Linked DNA regions of Homo sapiens: regions 1, 3 and 4 are each reported to be linked to region 2. Evidence: microRNA targets listed by miRTarBase, many of them from high-throughput screens and not tested one by one. Region 2 holds a microRNA gene; each other region holds the end of a gene's coding sequence.

Region 1 (5,156 bases), not on the chromosome of region 2:
CTCGTGATCTGCCCGCCTCGGCCTCCCAAAGTGCTGGAATTACAGGTGTGAGCCACCGCACCCGGCCTTTTTTTTTTTTTTTTTTTTTTTTTGAGACAGGACCTCCCTCTGTTGCTCTGTTCCAGATGGAGTGCTGGAGTGCAGTGGTGTTATCTCTGCTCACAGCCTCCATTTCCTGAGCTCGAGCGATCCTCCCACCTCAGCCTCCTGAGTAGGTGGGACTACAAGGGCATGCCATCAGCCCAGCTAATTTTATTTTAGTTTTTTGTAGAGATGGGGTCTCCCTGTGTTGCCCAGGCTGGTCTTGAACTGGACACAAGCGATCTTCCTGCCTCAGCCTCCCAAAATGCTGGGATTACAGGCGTGAACCACTGCACCTGGCCAAGTTTTTCAACAACAAATAATTTTTTTTTTTTTTGAGATGGAGTTTCGCTCTTGTTGCCCAGGCTGGAGTGCAATGGCACGATCTCAGCTCACCACAACCTCCGCCTCCTGGGTTCAAGTGATTCTCCTGCCTCAGCCTCCTGAGTAGCTGGGATTATAGCCATGTGCCACTACGCCTGGCTAATTTTGTATTTTTAGTAGAGACAGGGTTTTTCCATGGTGGTCAGGCTGGTTTCGAACTCCTAGCCTCAGGTGATCCGACCGCCTTGGCCTCCCAAAGTGCTGGGATTATAGGCGTGAGCTACCGTGCCTGACCCTTCAACAACAAATAATTTTGGAGAGTGCAGTTGTGCCAAGCATAGTTCTAGGCACAGACCAACACAACCCTCAGAGTTCCCAGGAGAGTAGGAGGCTACCTATAGATGGGAAATAAGTAACTCGAGATTGGGTAGATGCTACTAAAACAAAATCAGTCCAGGTGCAGTGGCTCATGCCTGTAATCCCAGCACTTTGGGAGGCCGAGGCGGGCGGATCACCTGAGGTCAGGAGTTCAAGACCAGCCTGACCAATATGGAGAAACGTTGTCTCTACTGAAAATACAAAATCAGCTGGGTGTGGTGGCGCATGCCTGTAATCCCAGCTGTTCGAGAGGCTGAGGCAGGAGAATCACTTGAACCCAGGAGGCGGAGGTTGTGGTGAGCCAAGATCGCGTCATTGCACTCCAGCCTGGGCAACAAGAGTAAAACTCCGTGTCAAAAAAAAAAAAAAAAAATTAGCCAGGTGTGGTGGCATGTGCCTGTAATCCCAGCTACTCGGAAGGCTAAGGTAGAAGAATTGCTGGAACTGGGAGGTAGAGGCTGCAGTGAGCCAAGATCATGCCACTACACTCCATTCTAGGAGACAGAGCAAGACTCCATCTCAAAAAAAAAGAAAGAAAGAAAATCAAACAAGTTGTGGTGGGGTGGTGACCCACCTGGATGTGTTGAGCTAGGAAGGGCAAGGAAGACCTCCCTGAGAAGGGGATATTGGGATTGGTGAAGCTATTGGGGAAAATGTCCACTGGGAAAATTTAACAGTTAGGGCAAAGGCCCTGGGGTGAGAAGGAGCTGGGGTCAAGGGAGCCCAGTTGAGTGATGGAGAGAGTGGGAGATGGAACTGAGAAAGTTGTCCGAAGTGAGAATAAGTCAGTCCTTGCAGGTCTTGGTGGAGCTGGCGCTTTATTGAGTGTGTCAAGAAGTCACTGGAGGCTGGGCGTGGTGGCTCATGCCTGTAATCCCAGCACTTTGGGAGGCTGAGATGTGAGGATCGCTTGATTCCAGGAGTTCAAGACCAGCCTGGGCTACATGGCACAACCCCATCTCTACAAAAAATACAAAAATTAGTCAGGTGTGGTCCACGTGCCTGTAGTCCCAGCTACTTGGGAGGCTGAGGCTGAGGTGGGAGAATTGCTTGAGTCCATGAGGTGGAGGTTGCAGTAAGCTGTGATTGTACCACTGCACTCCAGCCTGGGCGACAGAGCCAGAGACCCTGTCTCAAAAGAAAAAAAAAAAAAAAAAGGCACTGAAGGTTTCAAGGAGGAAGACATGATTCAATTGCCATCATATTGGGATGCAGACCTGGTTGCTTACCTTTTATTTTTATTTTTTACAATTCCACAGCAAGTATCACACCTGGTTGCTTTTTTTTTTTTTTTTTTGAGATGGAATCTCGCTCTGTCACTCAGGCTGGAGTGCAGTGGTATGATCTCAGCTCACTGCAACCTGTGCCTCCTGGATTCAAGTGATTCTCCTGCCTCAGCCTCCTGAGTAGCTGGGACCACAGGTGTTTGCCACCATGCCCAGCTAATTTTTTGTATTTTTAGTAGAGACAGGGCTTCGCCATGTTGGCCAGGCTGGTCTCAAACTCCTCACTTCAGGCAATCCTCCCGCCTTGGCCTCCCTAAGTACTGGAATTACAGGCCTGAGCCACCGCGCCTGGCCTGTACCTGGTTGCTTTCTTTAGATCCTCTGGGCCACCTCATTCCTCTCTCTGGATTGGCACCCACCTCTTCAGGTTATCCCTCCACTTTCTGACAATGACCCCTTCAGGTTGAGAAATCTGGCTTTGACCCAGAAACCACAAGCAAAATCCCCATCCTTTCTCCACCCATGGACTATACTCAGGTGTTGTTCCTCCTCGCAGCCCTTCCAGAAAAGTCCCTAATGCTGTGTAGCTCACTTGCTTCATCTCTTCAAAGACCATTGTAAAGGCATAGCCTGTACAGGTATCACATTACCTCTTCCTTCACTTCCTTCACCTCCTTCTCCTCTCCTGTATCTCAGCAGCCTGGGCTCGTACCTCCGAAATAAAGCATCAGCACAGGTCAGGCACAGTGGCTCATGCCTGTAATCCCAGCACTTTGGGAGGCTGAGGCAGGCGGGTCACTTGAGGTTAGGAGTTGGAGACAAGCCTGGCCAACATGGTGAAACTGTCTCTATTTTAAAAAAAATACAAAAATTAGCTGGGCGTGGTGGCAAGCACCTGTAGTCACTGCTATTCGGGAGGCTGAGGCAGGAGAATTGCCTGAACCCGGGAGTGGAGGTTGCAGTGAGCCAAAATCCTGTCATTGCACTCCAGCCTGGGTGACAGAGTGAGACTCCGTCTCAAAAAAAAAAAAAAAAAAAAAGCATTAGCACTATAAATCTAATCTGGGCTCTGCTTCCTAGCCAACTCTCCTAAAGAGGTCTTTTAGTACTGGGGGTCTTTGGGCATTTTCTTGCCCCTCTGGGCTCAGCAGCACATTCAGTGACACATACTCCGTGTGACTCAGTTTCTCCCTCCTGTGCCCACCCACGTGGCTGGTTAGTCTAAGAAGCAACATTTATAATAGTGAAGGACAAGGCTCTGGAGGCCATTTCAGCCTAGCTCCCTGGTCCTTGTTCTTCCTAGCTGTGTGGCTCTGAATTAAGTGACTTGTCCTCTCTAAACTTCTGGTTCCTCCTGTATAAAAAGTGGTAACAGTACTTACTTCTATATGAGGATTAACAGACTTAATTCAAATAAAGTGGCTAGAACAGTGCTCTTAACAAGCACTAATTTTTTTCTGAGGCTGGAGTGCAGTGGTGTGACCATGGCTTACTGCAGCCTCAACCTCCCAGGCTCAGGTGATCCTCCCAACTCAGCCTCCCCAGTAACTGGGACTACAGGCCGCCATGCCTAGCTCCTTTTTGTATTTTTTGTAGAGGCAGTGTTTCGCCACATTTCCCAGGCTGGCCTCAAGCAGATCCTCCCAAAGTGCTAGGATTCCAAGTGGGAGCTAGAGCACTCAGCCAACAAGCACTCAATAAATGTCATGTACAATGATACACCTACCCCAGCTATGGCACGGAAGTGGTGCTGATGTTTAGGAACTTACCAGGTCCCTCCCACTGACCCAGTGAAGTTTAGAAACATTAGACAACATCCCTCCTTCCAAAATACTTTTATTTAAAAAAATTACAAACAATCCAAAAAAAAAAAAAAAAGCCACCACAAACTCTGCCTTTCTTTTAAATAACCCGGCATGGAGCAGTTTGGTTTCCACCCTATTGCACGTGGTCCGGCCTGGTTATGAAATCAGGAGGCTGCTGAGACTGGGGTCCTGCCGAGGAAGTGGGGTTCAGCCTGGAGGGAGGACACCAGCCCCTCCCACCCCCTCAAGGTGCAAGAGGCAGAGCCTGGGTTTCTATAGCAACCTGGCAGCACATCCCTGTCATCCTTCGACAGGCCCAGCTTTCTTTATCTTCCCTGAGGCCCCAGTGGTCACAGGGGAGTGGGAACTAGCAGGAAAGGTGGAAGAAATGTGTAAGTGGAAAATCAGACTCCCAGAAACAGAGTCTCGTTAAGGCATTTGGAATAGATAAATTAATTCAGGAAGACCCACCTTCACAGAAGGTCGGGGTAACCAGACACACACACACATGCAAGACAGTTTGTGGAACCCTGAAATGGGAACAAAGGAGGCCATAGTCACTGCTTCGAGCCCCCACAAAAACACACACCCAGAGTTGCATTCAGGGATCCAGGCCACCGAAGATGACATGAGGAAGGATCGATCCCCTCTATCACAGTTTTAGGACCCCAGAATGATTTCCATGATGTGATCCAGTTCATTCCACTCCCAAGAACCTGGGGCACAGAAGAGGTTGTGAGGAGGCTCTGGTGGGGCCCGTGCAGGCTCCTTTTCTACCGCAGATGTGTCAATGTCCAGAAAGAAGTCATCCAGGCCAGAGTCCCCCAAGTACCGGGAGCTCAGAGCTTCTAAGAAGACTGGATCAGGCTGGGGTGGCACTTCATTCTGGAGGCCAAGGGGAGTCACTGGATTCTGAGGGGGCTCAGTCCCATCCATGGAGGTGTCCAGCTCCCTGAGGATAGAGCCAATGGTGGCTGACAGGGAGAAATCCTCCTCGCCCAGGAAGAGGGGCTCGGGGGGCAGGGCAGGGGCGGGAGCCAGGCGAAGTGCAGCCTGCAGCTGTTGGAGGGTGTTATGGATGAGGACATGCCTGCGGAGGCTGGGTGCTCGGGGGCCCAGGCTGCGCTGGACTTTGTCTAGGGAGATGCGGAGCAGGGCTTGCTGGTAGCTCTGAAGGCCTGCTGGACTCCACTCCCACCTCTCCTCCTCCTCTTCCAAATCAGAGTGTTTCCTCTTCAAGCCTCCCACCATGATGCCCTGTAGAGAGAAGAGGCGCATAGGGGAAGGTCAGACACCAGACACCGTAGTGCTGGCTCATATCCCACTTTCTCAGGCCTATTGA
Region 2 (5,364 bases):
ATATTGTACAACTATTACCACTTTCTAATTCCAGAACATTTTCTTCACTCCAAAAAGAAACCAGTATGCTAAGTGAAATAAGCCAGCCACAAAAGGATAAATATATACCGTAGGATTCTCCTTATATGAGGGGAGTTGTCAAAGTCAGTGAGACAGAAAGTTGAATTGTGGTTGCCAGGGGCTGTGGGGAGGGAAGAATGGGGAGTTACTGTTTAATGGACACAGAATTTCAATTTCTAAGAAGAAAAGAGACACGGAGATGGCAGGTGGAGATGGCTACATACATTATAAAGGTATTTAATACCACTGAAGTGTCTACTTAAATGGTTAAGTTAGTAAATTGTATGTTATGTGTATTTTACCACAATAAAAATAATTTTGGTAAATACCACAATGAAAAAAATTGGGAAAGGAATCCCTGTAGGTACCTTGTAAATAGTAAAATATTATTGAATCATTTTTGCTAATAGTTTTCATTTGTTAAATGTAAACATTCAAAATACACCAAGTATTAAGAAAAAAAAAGGAGCCCATAGCTATTAGCAGTTATTCTCCATTCTCACCTTCCTCCAGTTCCTGGCAGCCACTAATCCACTTTCTGTTAGATCTCCTTACTGAGGACATTTCATACAAATGGTATCATACAATAACATGACCTTGTGTGTCTGGCTTCTATCACTTAGCATAGTGTTTTCAACATTCATCCATATTGTAGCATATATCAGTACTTCATCCCCTTTTATGGTGACATATGTGGGCTTTTTAAAGTAGATTCCAGGCTGAGAGATAAGAGTCTTTCCCTCCTAAGGTTTCCTCCTGGAAGTAGAGCTTAGGCATATCTGAGCTGGGGAGCACACAGGTCTAGGAGGCTTCATTGTACGAACTCACCACGTGGCCCAAATGTTTTGCCCCGTACAGGCTCCCTTTTCCCTCTTTAGTGGGAGAGGCCCCATAACAGGGGGCCCTGCTTTCAGACTCAGCTGGGATACTATGACCCCTGGTCAGGTCTTTAATAGTGATATAACTCAGAGATGTCATGGTACCAGTGGCCACTCTGTAACTGGTGCTTTTGCTTAAATATAAACACGTATCACAGAGGAGAAATTCTGCTAGACATTCTGCTAATTGCAACTGAATGTAGCCTGTGATAACCAAACCCACTCTTCTGAAGCACGGTTCACTTTGGAGCATACCCTGTTGCACATGCCGCTTGGAATCAGAGGTAAACCAGACCCATTTAAGCTATGGCTAAATATAATGTGCTGCCTTGCTGCAGAGCCTGGGGAAGCCTGGCGGTGGGTCATGTGGGGAGGGTGGGCCACTGCTCTATTTCAGCAGGAAGTTGCTGTGCTTTCCTTGTTTTATAAAATGTCCCCAAATATGGAGGCTTTATAATGGGTAAAGCAGTGATCCAGCTGGACTCATTCTAGATATGCTATGATTTATCACCGTATAAAGGGGTAAGAAAGATCACTTCATGTTTCAAAGCACTGATCTCTTTTAGGAAGTTACACTGGGCATTCAAAATTTTTGTGTAATTTTATTTCTTGCTTTTTTTTTTTTTTTTTTTTTTTTTTAGATATAGGGTCTCTCTCTGTCACCCAGGCTGAAGTGCTGTGGCACAATCATAGCTCACTGTAACCTCAAACTCCTGGGCCCAATTGATCCTCTTACCTCAGCCTCCCAAGTAGCTAGGACTACCAGGGCATGTCACCATGCACAGCTAAGTTTTGGTTTTTCAAAAAAATGTTCACAGTGACAGGATCTCATTATGTTGCCCAGGCTGGTCTGGAACTCCTGGCCTCAAGTGATCCTCCCACCTTGGCCTCCACCAGCATTGGAATTACAGGAGTGAGACACTGTGCCTGATCAATTTTCTTTTTTATATGTGTTACTTTCTACAATTTCTTTGCTAGCTGACTTTGAAGATTCTTCTTTGGAATAGATGTGATGTTCAGGAACCAGGAGGATTTTCCTCGTCCAAGTTCATGGGTAATTTGGTGGGTTTTCTTGGAGAGTTTAAGTAGAATTTAATTGTGAATATTTGAGTGTTTGAGATAGGGAGGGAGGAGATGGCCTGAAGGATAGTCACTACTTACTTGATGGCAAGACATAATTAATGGGAATGTTCAGCATTATTTTCCTCTAAAACATGAAGTTCTACATGATTCTTATATGAACGTGGGCTGAGAAAGCATGCTGTGTTGTGTACATTATCTGGCTTCAAGAATTCATTATAATGAGATCAACAAAGCATGAGTACTGCCAGCCATGCACTCAGTGGCACCCACTGTTGTTGGGCTGATATACCTTCTCATTGCCACTTGCCTACCTCCAATTCTAAAATGCTTTTTTCAGCCTCTCTTGCAGCTAGGAAAAACATATGACATAGTTACACATACAAAGCTTTTACTTTTCTGATAAAAGGGGGAAATATTCCCAGTGTGACCCCCTTCTTCTCCTCTTCCTTGAAAGTGGTGTGATGCCTGGAGCCACAGCAGCCTTCTTGAGGCAGTCATCTTGTTATGATAAGGAAAGGCCAAGAGAACTGTCAAATTGTTAGCTCTGGCATCACATCACTGAGCTGATGAATCAGCACCATTGTTGTACTTTTAACCTTCATGTTGTTTGAGAAACATAAACCCCTATTTGTGGAATTTACTTTTAGTCAGAGTTTTGCTAACAGATATAGTTCATGGAAAGAATTTTGCTTTACTAGTATTTACTCTAATACGTCTACCTAAATATCCACCATGTCCTCTTTGTCTCTCTCCCGTATATTTCAGCACTGCCTAAAGTCTGTATTTATTGTTCCCATGGTTTTTCATTTTTATTTTTTTTTCTGAGATGGAGTCTCACTCTGTCTCCCAGGCTGGAGTGCAGTGGCGTGATCTCGGCTCACTGCAACCTCCACCTCCCAGGTTCAAGCAATTCTCCTGCCTCAGCCTCCTGAGTAGCTGGGATTACAGGCATGCACCATTAGATTTTGAAAATGAAACTTACTCATAAATATATTTCTTTCAAAATGAATTTTATAACTCTTTTCCCTTCAAATTTAAAACTTAAACCTCTACTAAGTTCCCATGGGTTCTTTTCATGGAAACTTAGTAGAGGTTTAAGTTTTAAATTTGGAAGGAAAAGATTTACAAAATTCATTTTGAAAGAAATATATTTATGAGTAAGTTTCATTTTCAAAATCTAATGTGTGATCACTTCATTTAGATTAAACTGTTGCCTGGTGCACTTGCAACCCACACATGGCAGAATTAGTTGGTGTGGGAGAAGGAAAGGGAAACTCTGACTGCATAGGGTCAAAAGCTGTTTGATGACAGGTCCGTTTGTGCATAAGGACAATACTTTTAGAAACCCATAACCTTAGCAACCTCAAATGCCAAAAGCAGAGTGTGAAATAACCAAACTAGAAAAAAAAATGGAGGCCTTATTGATCTTCATCGCACTAATACACCCTTACCATTTTAAAGAAAAGTATACTTTTTAGAAGAAAAAAGAAACCTATGTTTTTAAATTTTTTTAATTACTCCCTTGAACATGTGTGTGTGGTTTCTTTAGGAGAGTCTGGGTAGTTGACATTGTTTTGTCTACTAAGGATATGAGTCTATTGTATCATGTAATTTCCTGTTTATTAGGACCCTTGGGGGAAAATTTCTGTCTGCTCATGGGAGCCCAAATATTTGTAACTGAGCAACAGGTTTATTTTAATCTCATGAATATTGTAGGTGATTTAATTGTCAATGGGCTGCTTATTTTTGTTTTCTTGGTTGCTTTTTAAAAAAGTTATTTAAAAAGGTACACAAGTCACATGACATTAGTTCCTATTAAAAAAGATTGAGTTAATTCAGTCAGATTTTTATGTAACATCCAAGAGTGACTCTGTCCCATAATACACCCTCTGCTTCACTTGATGTTTTCTAGCGTTGACTCAGGATATGCAGTAGTAACTAACATCACATGAATTTTCAAAATTGCATTTATTTTTAGCACCAACTTTAAGGATTTTTATTATGACAATAGAGGTTAATGAGCATTTTCACAAGATAAACAAAAAATCCCCCCAAATATGTAAGTGTTTTAACATAATGATTGCAGTTTATTTTTCACTCAGGTCAAATCCAAGATGGGTGTTCCTGATCTGCCTGTAGCTCTCCTCCAACCCAGACTCCTTTCAAACTGTGCCTCCACCATCTTCAATATGGAGCTTCCAAGATTGCCCTGCTGCCCTGCATCAAGCCTGCAAAAGAGGATAGGGGGTCAGGCCACTCATATTTCATTGGCCCAAATTCAGTCACATGGCCACACTCACTGCAAGGGAAGCTGGGAAATGGAGTCTAGCTCTGTGCCCAAGAAGCAAAGAAAAACAGATTTGATGAAGACTTAGTCAATCTCTGCAACAATGAAACAGATAAGAAGGCAAAAGAAAAAGAATTTTACAACCTGAGGAGGGAGAGAAAATTCAGTTAACAAAAAGATAGACTACATGCCAAGGTAGTCTGCAGAATTCTACCTACCCAAATTATGTGTTAAATTGTGAAAGAAGTTATGATAAAAATAGGATGAGGGTGAAATTTGAAAAATGCTCTGGGGACACATAGCACACTCCTTCCCTGGTGACACAGTAGGCAGAACCAAGCCAACTATAAAAGGAAGCTCAGTGTGTTTAATCTGTTGCTCGGATAAAACCATCCTGGAAAAACTCCCAGTTTTACAATCTAACTGATCATCAGTATCTCAGTTATACAAATAACTCCAGCCTGCATGAAATACCTTCTTGCTCCCCTTGACTTGTAAAAATAACTTTGTTTCAATGGAAAAGGTGTAGAAAATGGACGTTGAAGCCAATCAAACTCATAGTATCAATACTTTGTGTTAAGCTTTAGGAGTAAGTTTTGTAATCATTGCAATCAGCTTGTTTTTGTTATTTAAGCAGCTTAAAATGATTAAGATAATCTGACATATTAGCCTTACGATTTTATTTTGGAATGATAAACTAATACTCAATTTGTAATTTTCACTTGAAAGTTGCAGAATAATTGAATATGTTCTTTAAAAGTGTTTGAATATTCAGAAGAATCTAATTTACTACATGTATAAACTAGTATTATTACAAGAGTTCATTGAGATATTGAAGGATTTTTCTTGCTTTGTTTGTAAATGTTGCCCCATCAGGCATTTGAAGTGTTTGAGAAAGTCAAAGTTATTAAATTTGTAAAGATAGTTAAAAATATTTTAGGAAATCTTTTTACATGTATAAAGATGGTCAGTTTGAAGAAATTTAATGTTTTTAAGTTTGTAAGTTGATTGAACACTAATCAAACAAGAAAAGCAATTGTTCTCATTTTTATATAA
Region 3 (5,156 bases), not on the chromosome of region 2:
GAGGAACTTGAGTCCAAGGCTCGAGCACTGTGGCTTATTGAGTGAGTCCCCTATAAGGTGCCTGACTCCCCAGGGTGGAGACTGCAGGGTAAGAGTGAACAGGTCAACAGTCCCTGCCTGCAAGCACCTTACAGCTAAGGGATAGAATCATTTGGCCCTTGAGTCCAGTCACCCTGTCTGAGTTCATTCAGCATGTTCACTTGTGTTTGCCAGGCACTGGGGCCACAAGGGCACATCATTCTATACTCTGTTCTGCAAGGCTCACCAAGGGCAGGAGAATCTGCCCAACCTTGGATGCCAAGGCCAGGCCCGCCTCTCGTCCCTTCTCTTCCCAGGCCCCCCCGGCCTGCCACTTCAGTCAACTCCACTGAGGAGACTGCCACTACAGTTGTTGCTGCTGCCTCCTCCACCAGCATCCCTAGCTCAGAGGCCACGACCCCAACCCCAGGAGCCTCCCCACCAGCCCCTGAAATGGAAAGGCCTCCAGGTAGGTGTGATTGGCCTCCAGCCGGGGGAGCAGGGAACTTCTCTAGGTTCCACTTCCAGTCTCTCTGTCCCCAGCTCCTGAGTCAGTGGGCACAGAGGAGATGCCTGAGGATGGAGAGCCCGATGCAGCAGAGCTCCGCCGGCGCCGCCTGCAGAAGCTGGAGTCTCCTGTTGCCCACTGACACTGCCCCAGCCCAGCCCCAGCCTCTGCTCTTTTGAGCAGCCCTCGCTGGAACATGTCCTGCCACCAAGTGCCAGCTCCCTCTCTGTCTGCACCAGGGAGTAGTACCCCCAGCTCTGAGAAAGAGGCGGCATCCCCTAGGCCAAGTGGAAAGAGGCTGGGGTTCCCATTTGACTCCAGTCCCAGGCAGCCATGGGGATCTCGGGTCAGTTCCAGCCTTCCTCTCCAACTCTTCAGCCCTGTGTTCTGCTGGGGCCATGAAGGCAGAAGGTTTAGCCTCTGAGAAGCCCTCTTCTTCCCCCACCCCTTTCCAGGAGAAGGGGCTGCCCCTCCAAGCCCTACTTGTATGTGCGGAGTCACACTGCAGTGCCGAACAGTATTAGCTCCCGTTCCCAAGTGTGGACTCCAGAGGGGCTGGAGGCAAGCTATGAACTTGCTCGCTGGCCCACCCCTAAGACTGGTACCCATTTCCTTTTCTTACCCTGATCTCCCCAGAAGCCTCTTGTGGTGGTGGCTGTGCCCCCTATGCCCTGTGGCATTTCTGCGTCTTACTGGCAACCACACAACTCAGGGAAAGGAATGCCTGGGAGTGGGGGTGCAGGCGGGCAGCACTGAGGGACCCTGCCCCGCCCCTCCCCCCAGGCCCCTTTCCTCTGCAGCTTCTCAAGTGAGACTGACCTGTCTCACCCAGCAGCCACTGCCCAGCCGCACTCCAGGCAAGGGCCAGTGCGCCTGCTCCTGACCACTGCAATCCCAGCGCCCAAGGAAGGCCACTTCTCAACTGGCAGAACTTCTGAAGTTTAGAATTGGAATTACTTCCTTACTAGTGTCTTTTGGCTTAAATTTTGTCTTTTGAAGTTGAATGCTTAATCCCGGGAAAGAGGAACAGGAGTGCCAGACTCCTGGTCTTTCCAGTTTAGAAAAGGCTCTGTGCCAAGGAGGGACCACAGGAGCTGGGACCTGCCTGCCCCTGTCTTTTCCCCTTGGTTTTGTGTTACAAGAGTTGTTGGAGACAGTTTCAGATGATTATTTAATTTGTAAATATTGTACAAATTTTAATAGCTTAAATTGTATATACAGCCAAATAAAAACTTGCATTAACAATTGGTGGGGTTTGTGTCACAGAATCGATCAAATCAGTGTCGGGCTCCTTGCTGTGGCTGTACACTTGAAAATGGAATGGAATCTCCAGGAGTGAGGGTTTCCATGGAAGCCAGCACTATCCTTGGGGACACCACTGACCATTAACAGATTAGGAAGATGTGCCCATTTTACACACAGAGAAGCAGCCCAGAGTTCAGTGCCCTGCTTCAGGGCAGAGACCAAGTTGGGGAGTCAGGAACTGAAAGCTGTCTTAGCCAGTTTGGGGGCAGGGTGGGGTCTCAGGCCTTTGGCCCCTGTGACTCCAAGTATAAGGCATATATGAAGGCTAGTGAGCTGGGGTTGGGATGGGATGGCAGGGTGAAAGGTCAGCATATTCCTGCCTGCAAACCCCTCCCCAGCCTTGATTGCAGGTCAGAAGGCTGCAGGGGGATGTCCCTATGCTGGCTGTGAGTTCCCAGCCACTCCCTTGTGGTCAGGCCAGCAAGTCTGGTCTGCAATGGAACAGTGACCAAGAACGTGCCTCCTACCTCTCTATCAGAGCCCGGGGCTAACGTGGGCACTCTGTGCCCCAGTGCCAGCACTGTACTTTGAACAGAAGATCTCCAAGACCCATGCCCGAGTCATCTGTGTTCTCCATCACCTGCACCAAACAAGATCTGGCCTAGAGCAAAGGCTTGGGGGTATTTGCAACAGTGAGCTTCGGAGGGCCAAGGAAACAAAGTGCCCAGTGGCTCTGCCCTGTGCTACCTTCCCCTAAACTGGGGTTGGGCTACTGCTTCCACCAAATAACAACTAGAATTTGAATTGCTGAGCCCAAGGAAAGAAAAACAAAACAGGCCAAGGTGGACCAGGCACATGGCTCATGCCTATAATCCCAACGCTTTGGGAGGCCAAGGTGGGCGGATCACTTCGAGTCAGGAGTTTGAGACCAGCCTGGCCAACATGGTGAAACCCCATCTCTACTAAAAATACAAAAATTAGCAGGCTGTGGTGGTGGGCGCCTGTAATCCCAGCTACTCAAGAGGCTGAGGCAGGAGAATCCCTTGATCCCAGAGGTGGAAGTTGCAGTGAGCCAAGATCATGCCACTGCACTCCACCCTGGGCAACAGAGTGAGACTCCGTCTCAAAAAACAAAAAAGAACAGGCCAAGATAGGAGGGAGAGAAAGCTGCTGACGCCCCCCATTAGCCTGGTGATCCCTATTTGGTCTCCCACATTAGGCACTCTCCCCCAGCATGTACATAGAGTTGTTTTCTCCTTTATGCAAGCAAGGCCTGACCCCAAAGTCCTTTAGCCCTAGTTTCTGTATCCCCTGTCTCAGGGGCTCCAACACCCACCTCCCTCCTCCTGAGGCCCCCTAGACTTGATCCACAGGGCATGCTGACAAGCAGGCTGCTCGGCTGGGCCTCAGAAGCCTTTCTCCAAGAGCCAGGCTTTAAGCTCCTGGTCAAAGTAGCCCTTGATCCGTAGGGTACCTGTCACCTCATTGACCTGGGTGACAGGTGTCTTCCCCAGCAGCGGGCTCAGAAAATCTTCCACGTCTTTCTGCAGGGCCTGGGGAAAGATGACAAATCAGGTCAGGCCAAGAGTCCCTTCCCTTAAAAAGACTCCTGTCCCTTCAGCCCTGAAAGGGTCAGGCCCAGTCCCAGACCCACCCACCCACTTACCCAGATGTCCCCTTCCACTTTCCGGATCACAGTCATCTGCCGGTTGCCATGCGTGATGTCCTTGTAGACGGGGATGTTGTGCATCCGAGAGCGTCGTACAAAGTAAGGCAGGTTGGGTGGGGGGTCTGCAACAGGGAAAGACACTGTTAAATCAACTCTTCCTACGTGCCATCCCACCTCAGCCAAGGCCCTTGCTCTCAGTCTGCAGAGGGCCAGTGCACCCAGCTGGACCAAGCCACCTCCAGACTTTAGGTCAGGGGGTCTCCTCTTTCCTTCAGCTTGGAGTCAGGACCAAATTGTTCACCCTGGTACCCTAAGGCCCCACACAGGGCCTGGCACTAAGTAGGTGCTCAAGAAAAAATGAAATCAGGGACATGCCTCCCTGGATCTTTGGGTCCCCCTCTAGGCCAACCCTTGCCCTCCTCCACTGGGTCAGGGAGGCCGAAATCAATCTCTGGAACAAAGAGATTGGGATTTGCAAGCACTGAGCACCTACCATATGCTGGGCTCTGCACTAAGGGCTCTATGTACTGAGCAGATTATCTCCATTTTGCTAAAACAGGTTGGGTCAAGCTAAGTGACTAATTCAAGATAACATCAACAGTAAATAAAGCCAAATTCAAACCCAGAACTGCCTGACTCCAAGCTGTGTTCTTAATTACAGTACATAGTCTGCTGGGGGGAAAGAAGGTCCAAGCTCTTGGGTTTTCTCTCTGTTGTTTACTTTCCCCCATATGGGGAAGACCTGATCTCAATAGTGTGGATGGATGAGTACCAGTGAACAACAGAAGGCTCCACTCCTCGGCTCTTCCTTGGGCATGAGACAGATGTAACCCAGAGGGATTGCAAAATGAGTCCTGAACCCACTGGAGAGTCCAGAGCCTCATGGGGGAGGCCAACCTCTGGGGAGGAGGTGATGCTCCGTGAAGCTTTCAAATCATCCCTAACCACCCAGCTCACCTCTGGGAGGCTGCCAGCCACTAGGGGTAGGATAATGTTCATGCTTTGGGGGATCTGGGATCCTGGTAGCCGGTAACAGGCGCTCCACAAACTGATATTCATCCACAGACTCCACAAACCTGGGGTAATCTGGAGGGCCCTGGGTCTGGCTCTGAAGCAAAACAAAAATCCCATTTCTCCATTAGCCTACCCAACACAGGATGGCATAACTTCAGTAAGTAGAGAATGGAAACATTACAGGCAGAGAGAATGACATAAATAAAAGGCTGGGCGACGGTGTGAAAGCTATCAGAATCAAAATGGAGTGAGTCACTTGGGTTAAAAATCCCAACAAATAGAGCTAGGGAGGGCCACGAAGAGAGAGTTCTTGGGCACAAATACTTAATAACAAGAACTACCACAAAAGACTGCAAAAACCACAGCCTTGCACAAAGGCCACTTCAACCTTACACAAAAAAATATTTCTGGCTGGGCAAGGTGGCTCACGCCTGTAATCCCAGCACCTTGGAGGCTGAGGCAGGAGGATCATCTAAGGTCAGGAGTTCAACACCAGCCTGGCCAACATGGCGAAACCCCATCTCTACTGAAAATACAAAAATTAGCCGGGCATGGTGGTGCATGCCTGTAATCCCAGCTACTTGGGAGGCTGAGGCAGGAGAATTGCTTGAACCCAGGAGGTGGAGGTTGCAGTGAGCTAAGATCGCACCATTGCACTCCAGCCTCGGTGACAGAGCGACGAGACTCTCTCAAACAAAACAA
Region 4 (5,156 bases), not on the chromosome of region 2:
GGGGGTGACACTGTGCACTTGGTGGCCTGGGCCCCACTGACCCCCAGCCTATCACCACAGGACCTGCACACAAACAGCCCAAGGCACAGCAAGGGCTCCTACAATGACTTCAGCTTCGTGACGCACACCAATAGAGAGGGCGTCCCCATGCGTAAGGGCGAGCACCTGGGCGAGTTCAACCTGGGCTCCACCATCGTGCTCATCTTCGAGGCCCCCAAGGACTTCAATTTCCAGCTGAAAACAGGACAGAAAATCCGCTTTGGGGAAGCCCTGGGCTCGCTCTAGAGTCTCTTTCCTGATTATGGCTGCTAAGGGATCTTTTCCAAACAGAGTGAGGGTCTTTTCAAGAGGGAGGCCCATGAGGCCATCCAGGTAAGGGCCTGCCTCAGCGTGGTTGGGAGTCTGACCAGGTAGGACTTGAATGATTCGGCTACCACCTGTTCCAGAGGTGCAGACAAGAGGTGGCGAGAGCCCCCATCATGCCCCTCAACCTATCCCGTTCCTTCTGCCTACAAATAAAAAGTGCAGGCTGGAATGATCTCAGTCACATTTGGATCTTTTTAAACACTGTATAGACGGAAGAGCCTGCATTCCTGACCGAACCTTCAGTTGGTCTCGGTTGTCGTTTTTTCTTGCTGCTCCTCCCCCCATCACCTGAGCTGTTTTCTGTTGGCCCCTTTTGTTTTTTGGCCTTAACGCTCCTGCTGCACAGGGTGAGGTGCCTCCTTGGCACAGACTGTGGATGCCTCTCCCCCAGCAGAGCCACACAGCCTTCGTGACAACTGCTTTCCGTTCCCACATTCACCTCATCCTGCTCTTTAGAAAAAGCAGTCTTTGTGCTTGTGGCTGAACGCATCACCCTGGACTCTGCTAGTGTCTTCTGAGGACACTGATGACACTGATTAATGATACAGACCTTTGCAGGACCTGATGAGTGACCCTTCTGGAGCTGGCCAGGTCCTCTGCAGCAGGCAAGACCAATCAATCACTGAACCTGCCTCATGGCACCAGAGTGAACAGGGCAGGCAGGTAGTAGGCCCAGCTGGGGAAATGGGAGAGTTCCTGTCCCCCTCCACATATCCCTACATGAAATATGGGAAAGTTGCTGCTATTGATTCAGGGTCTGTCTTGGAGGCAGAGGACCCTTGGTGGATAGTTGGTCAGTGCCTGGAAAACCTGTCCCAGTTTATCAGGAACGCAGGCCTGGGGAGCCCCCAGTGGCGGGGACAGGGCCAGATTTCATGTTGACCCTGGGGATGCTGTGAATTTCTCCTGCAGGAGAGACATCATTGAATTTTTTCAACTGTATCAGTAGCACAGTATTTTTGTATGAAAAGTGGGAGACTTCTGAACAGTAATTCATTTAATTGCAAAGCATTTTGAAATAAAAAAAATCAAACTTAAAACTGTGTTCTGTTCCTGGAGGTGGCCTGAGGCCTCCCCGACAGCCCAGCACCTGCGTTCCTGGTGCGAACACGCTAGCACAGGGCCTGCCGCAGGGCCTGGATGCGGGCAACGCAGGCGCCAATGGGCTGGCGCTGAGCCTGGAGCTCCTCTGCCAGCAGCTGGATCTGCATTTCCACCTGGGGCCATGGAGGGACAGGCAGGGCTGAGAGGGAGCACAGCCCGGGGCGTCCCCAGGGACACCTGGGGATGGCCTGGGGCCTCACCTGTTCCAGCTCTTTCTGCACCTGCTGCTCTACTTCCTGGTCCTCAGGCCCCGGCTCCTCTCTGTTCAGCTCCAGCCACCTGCGCAGGCTGCTCGCTTGCCGCCGACAGGACCTGAGGGGTGGAGATACCCACTGCCTGCCAGGCTGGGTCCTTGGCAGAGCCCCATCCGGCTCAGGGAGAGGCACCTCAGCTAATTCTGATGCGGGTATCGGGTGGAGAGAGGTGGTCTGGTAGGGCCCCTGACCTGAACTGCAGGCCCCTGCTTGGGAGCCAAACACTTGTTCTTTTTCCTCTCCCAGTCTCCTCCGCCCTCCCCAGCAGACAGCAACTCAGGTGGGCCTGGGCAAGAACACACTCCTTGTCTCTCTCCCCCTGTGCAGAGCCAAGGATGAGGCGCCAGTCTGTTGCCCTGGAAGCTCTGAGGTTGCTGCATGTTGAATGGTCCCCAGACCACTGAGTGCAGCTGAGTCACGGGCCTGTCTCCTCTGCATTTTTTTTTTTTTTTGAGATGGAGTGTTGCTGTGTTGCCCAGGCTGGAGTGCAATGGCGTGATCTCAGCTCACTGCAACCTCCGCCTCCCAGGTTGAAGCGATTCTTCTGCCTCAGCCTTCCAAGTAGTTGGGACTACATGCGTGCACCACCATGCCCGGCTAATTTTTGTATTTTTAGTAGAGATGGGGTTTCACCATATTGGCCAGGCTGGTCTTGAACTCCTAACCCCGTGATCTGCCTGGATCACAGCCTCTCAAAGTGCTGGGATGACAGGTGTGAGTCACTGCGCCTGGCCCTTCTCTGCACCTTTAATATCAGTGTTATAATTAGTCACTGGGGACAGCATGGCCTCATCGGGTTTTTAGAGTTTTGCTCAACTTTATCGTCCCCCCCATAGGAAGCAGAGCCTCTGTGCACAGGTGAGTCTGACGACTTGGGCCTTCCTAAGCAGCACTGAGCCGGGTAGAGAGCCATGGTGGAGATGGGGTCTTTCTGGACAGCACACACTGAGGGCTCCCCACACCCCTCCATGGCTAGACCGAGACCACCTACAGGACCCTGGCAGCTGGCTCGGGGGAAATGGAACTGCCTGCCCACCTCTCCAGGCAACACCTGCTCCTGTAGCCAGGGCTGCAGGGCGTTTCGCAGGGCTCACCAGAGGTTCTGCTTGGTGGTCTGGTAGTGCAGTAGTTGCTGCTGGATCTCCTCAAGTTCAGCCTCAAGGTCCAGGCTGCCTATGGCGACAGAAGTAAGCTTGTTTCAGACTATTTTCCCCTCGGGGACCAGGGTAAATAGCAAGTCCCAGGTCCGGGAGTGGCCTGAGTGCTTTCTGCCCTGACAGGCCCCAGGTACACACCTGCAGTTGAAAGTCCAGGCCCAGCCCTGGTGGCTGAGAAGTCCCCAGGAAGGAGTAGATGGGGGTCAGGGACACTGGCCAGGGATGAGGGGACCGGGGGCTTATCCCTAGGAGTAGCCCGCTGTGCTGACACCTGCAAAGGAAAGAAGGGTAGATGCTGAGCAAGGAAGCTAGGAGGAAGCCAGGGAGGGGGACACCAAGTCCTTGTCACTGCCTGCCCTGCAGGGGTGGGGGAAGACCAGGCTCCCAGCTGCAGGAGCTGGGCTTCCCAGGCACTGGCCGTGCCAGCTCAGTGTCTAGCCTGCCCCTGCACACAGGGCCTGGTACTGTAGGGGAAAGTCCCGCAAGCAACCAGGGAGCACCCCGTGTCACCACAGTCCGCCTCACGCCTCCACTGCCTGAGCAGCTGTTCCTAGCCTTGCCTTACCCAACCCTCCACCCCCACCTGCTCTAAGCTCATGACCTTGCTGAGCTTTGACATCAGTGAGAAGTGGTCAGTGAGAGGCCACTGCTCTACAGCCTTTTCCATGCCCTCCTCTCCTGGTGAGAGTGGACTTGCCCCTTCCATCACCGGACAGGGGTCAAAACCCTTTCAAACCCACATTCAAACCATTCCAGCCAGGGTAAGTGGCCCCACATGGCCTAACTCACCACAGGAACTGGTTCCTTCCTGTCCCCTCATCCCCTTTCAGGAACCAGCTGCTTTGGTGGCCTTAGAGCAGCTGTCACTTCCATTACTGAGCTCTCACACCCCCTGGCCATCCCCACCCAGGCTCCCTGCTTGGAGCCTCCTCCCCTCTCTCCTTCCCCTGTACTCTCCTCCTAGAGGCCGCAGTGGCTCTGGGGTTACCTTCGGCCTGTGCTGAAGATTCTTCTCAATCTCTGGCCCTGACCTCTTCCTTGAAGGTCAGACTCAACGTTTGCTTTCTCTCAAATTTGACATCAAGAGCCTGGTTCAAAACACTCTTGACACTTCACCCCAAACCAGTCCCCACCCCCAGTTCCTTCTTCCAGTCAAAGAACTCTGTTTCCCAAGTTATTCAAGCCAGCAGCCCACATCAGCCTGGATTCCTTCTTTCCCCTCATTCAGCAACTCCCTCAGAGCAGCATATCCTGCCTCATCTGCCTCCAAGAGAGTACCTGTCCCCTCTGTGGCAACCGCTGAGCCCAGGCCACCAGTACTACTTGCCTGGACCACGTGGTCATGGTGACCACAGCCTGCACAGAAACCTGACATGGTGCTCCCTGCCAAAACCCTTCCCCGACTTCCTACTCTTCTCAAATCCCAGGCTACTTCTCACTGTGGCCTGCAGGACCCTACGTGATCTGCAGCCACTTTACTGGCCTGCAGGCAGGGGTTTTTCTTTGCTTGTCTCTGACTAGAATATAAGCTTCAGGATGGCAGGGCCCTTGGCTGGCTGTTCACTGCTGTGGCCCTTGGACCTGGTGTGCAGTGGCTACCTATGCTTGTCAAATGGATGAGTGGCCTCCCTGTGCCAAGGTTTTCCAGAAACTAGTACAGCTGTGGCATGAGAAAGCACCAGAAGTCAGACCAGAGTGAGAGCCCCAGTGCCCAGGCCTGGTGGTGGAGGACGTACCCTGGCTGGTGCAGCCGCCCCGCAGGGCATGAAGGAGGAAAGAGGCAGCAGCAGCAGCTCCGGGCCTGTGCTTGCCGTCGGGGGCTGCTTCGGGCCAGGGGCGCTTGACAGGGCCCCAGGCAGGGGGCTGTGTGGGACCAGTGCTGTCGGGGCCTCTGCCAGGAAGGGCCGCGTCAGGGAGGGGGCTGCTGGCTGAGCCATGCCTAGGCCATGTTCCTGTGGCTTCTGAGGCCTGAGCACAGGGAAGGCAAGAGCCTGGTCAGGCCACAGGACCCTCCTCTGGGACCAAAGAACAAGAAGGAAAGGGGGCCACCCACCCCAGGGCTGCCAAAACACAGGCCCCACATGGAGGTGCCCGCTGCCTTTGGGGACCCCTGACCATCTCCCCCTGCCTGCCCACGGTGCTGCACCCCAGGGACCTCTGGCTCTGCGCAGGCTCCAACAGGAAGTGTGGGCGTCGCGGCTGCTTCCTCGCTGAGTGGGCAGTGTTGCTGGAAAGAAACATGGGGTCTGTTCCCCTGGGCTGACCAGGGGCTGCA

Evidence for each region. The annotated mature microRNA hsa-miR-4471 reads UGGGAACUUAGUAGAGGUUUAA and lies in region 2 at 3,063-3,084, opposite strand. An mRNA with a match to its seed (bases 2 to 7 or 8) in the 3' UTR can be bound and repressed. Matches are read on the target gene's strand: a 7mer-m8 pairs with bases 2 to 8, a 7mer-A1 pairs with bases 2 to 7 and ends in A, and an 8mer does both.
Region 1: miRTarBase lists SERTAD3 as a target of hsa-miR-4471. Seed matches in the 3' UTR shown: 7mer-A1 at 4,351-4,357 and 8mer at 4,176-4,183.
Region 3: miRTarBase lists SYVN1 as a target of hsa-miR-4471. Seed matches in the 3' UTR shown: 7mer-A1 at 830-836 and 7mer-A1 at 1,056-1,062.
Region 4: miRTarBase lists PISD as a target of hsa-miR-4471. Seed matches in the 3' UTR shown: 7mer-A1 at 792-798.

Annotation. Positions count from the first base shown.
Region 1 is chr19:40,437,016-40,442,171 of GRCh38, forward strand. SERTAD3 (SERTA domain containing 3) reads right to left here. Exons shown (of 2, transcript NM_203344.3): 2 at 3,829-5,071. The coding sequence starts at 5,065. The coding sequence ends at 4,475. Among named protein-coding and RNA genes, the nearest start is that of SERTAD3, 4.7 kb to the right of the region's middle.
Region 2 is chr8:100,380,531-100,385,894 of GRCh38, reverse strand. It overlaps MIR4471 (microRNA 4471), which reads right to left and starts at 3,132; the gene lies at 3,050-3,132. It overlaps LOC124901991 (a long non-coding RNA gene), which reads right to left. Exons shown (of 2, transcript XR_007061030.1): 2 at 3,971-4,249. RefSeq lists an enhancer at 3,222-3,321.
Region 3 is chr11:65,123,894-65,129,049 of GRCh38, reverse strand. It overlaps SYVN1 (synoviolin 1), which reads left to right. Exons shown (of 16, transcript NM_172230.3): 15 at 336-487; 16 at 562-1,771. The coding sequence ends at 668. MRPL49 (mitochondrial ribosomal protein L49) reads right to left here. Exons shown (of 4, transcript NM_004927.4): 2 at 4,398-4,548; 3 at 3,438-3,562; 4 at 1,679-3,324. The coding sequence ends at 3,178. Among named protein-coding and RNA genes, the nearest start is that of MIR6751, 3.5 kb to the left of the region's middle.
Region 4 is chr22:31,614,741-31,619,896 of GRCh38, reverse strand. It overlaps PISD (phosphatidylserine decarboxylase), which reads left to right. Exons shown (of 8, transcript NM_001326411.2): 8 at 61-1,406. The coding sequence ends at 285. It overlaps SFI1 (SFI1 centrin binding protein), which reads right to left. Exons shown (of 33, transcript NM_001007467.3): 28 at 5,037-5,108; 29 at 4,618-4,849; 30 at 3,020-3,152; 31 at 2,819-2,897; 32 at 1,671-1,782; 33 at 1,309-1,583. The coding sequence ends at 1,479. Among named protein-coding and RNA genes, the nearest start is that of MIR7109, 4.2 kb to the left of the region's middle.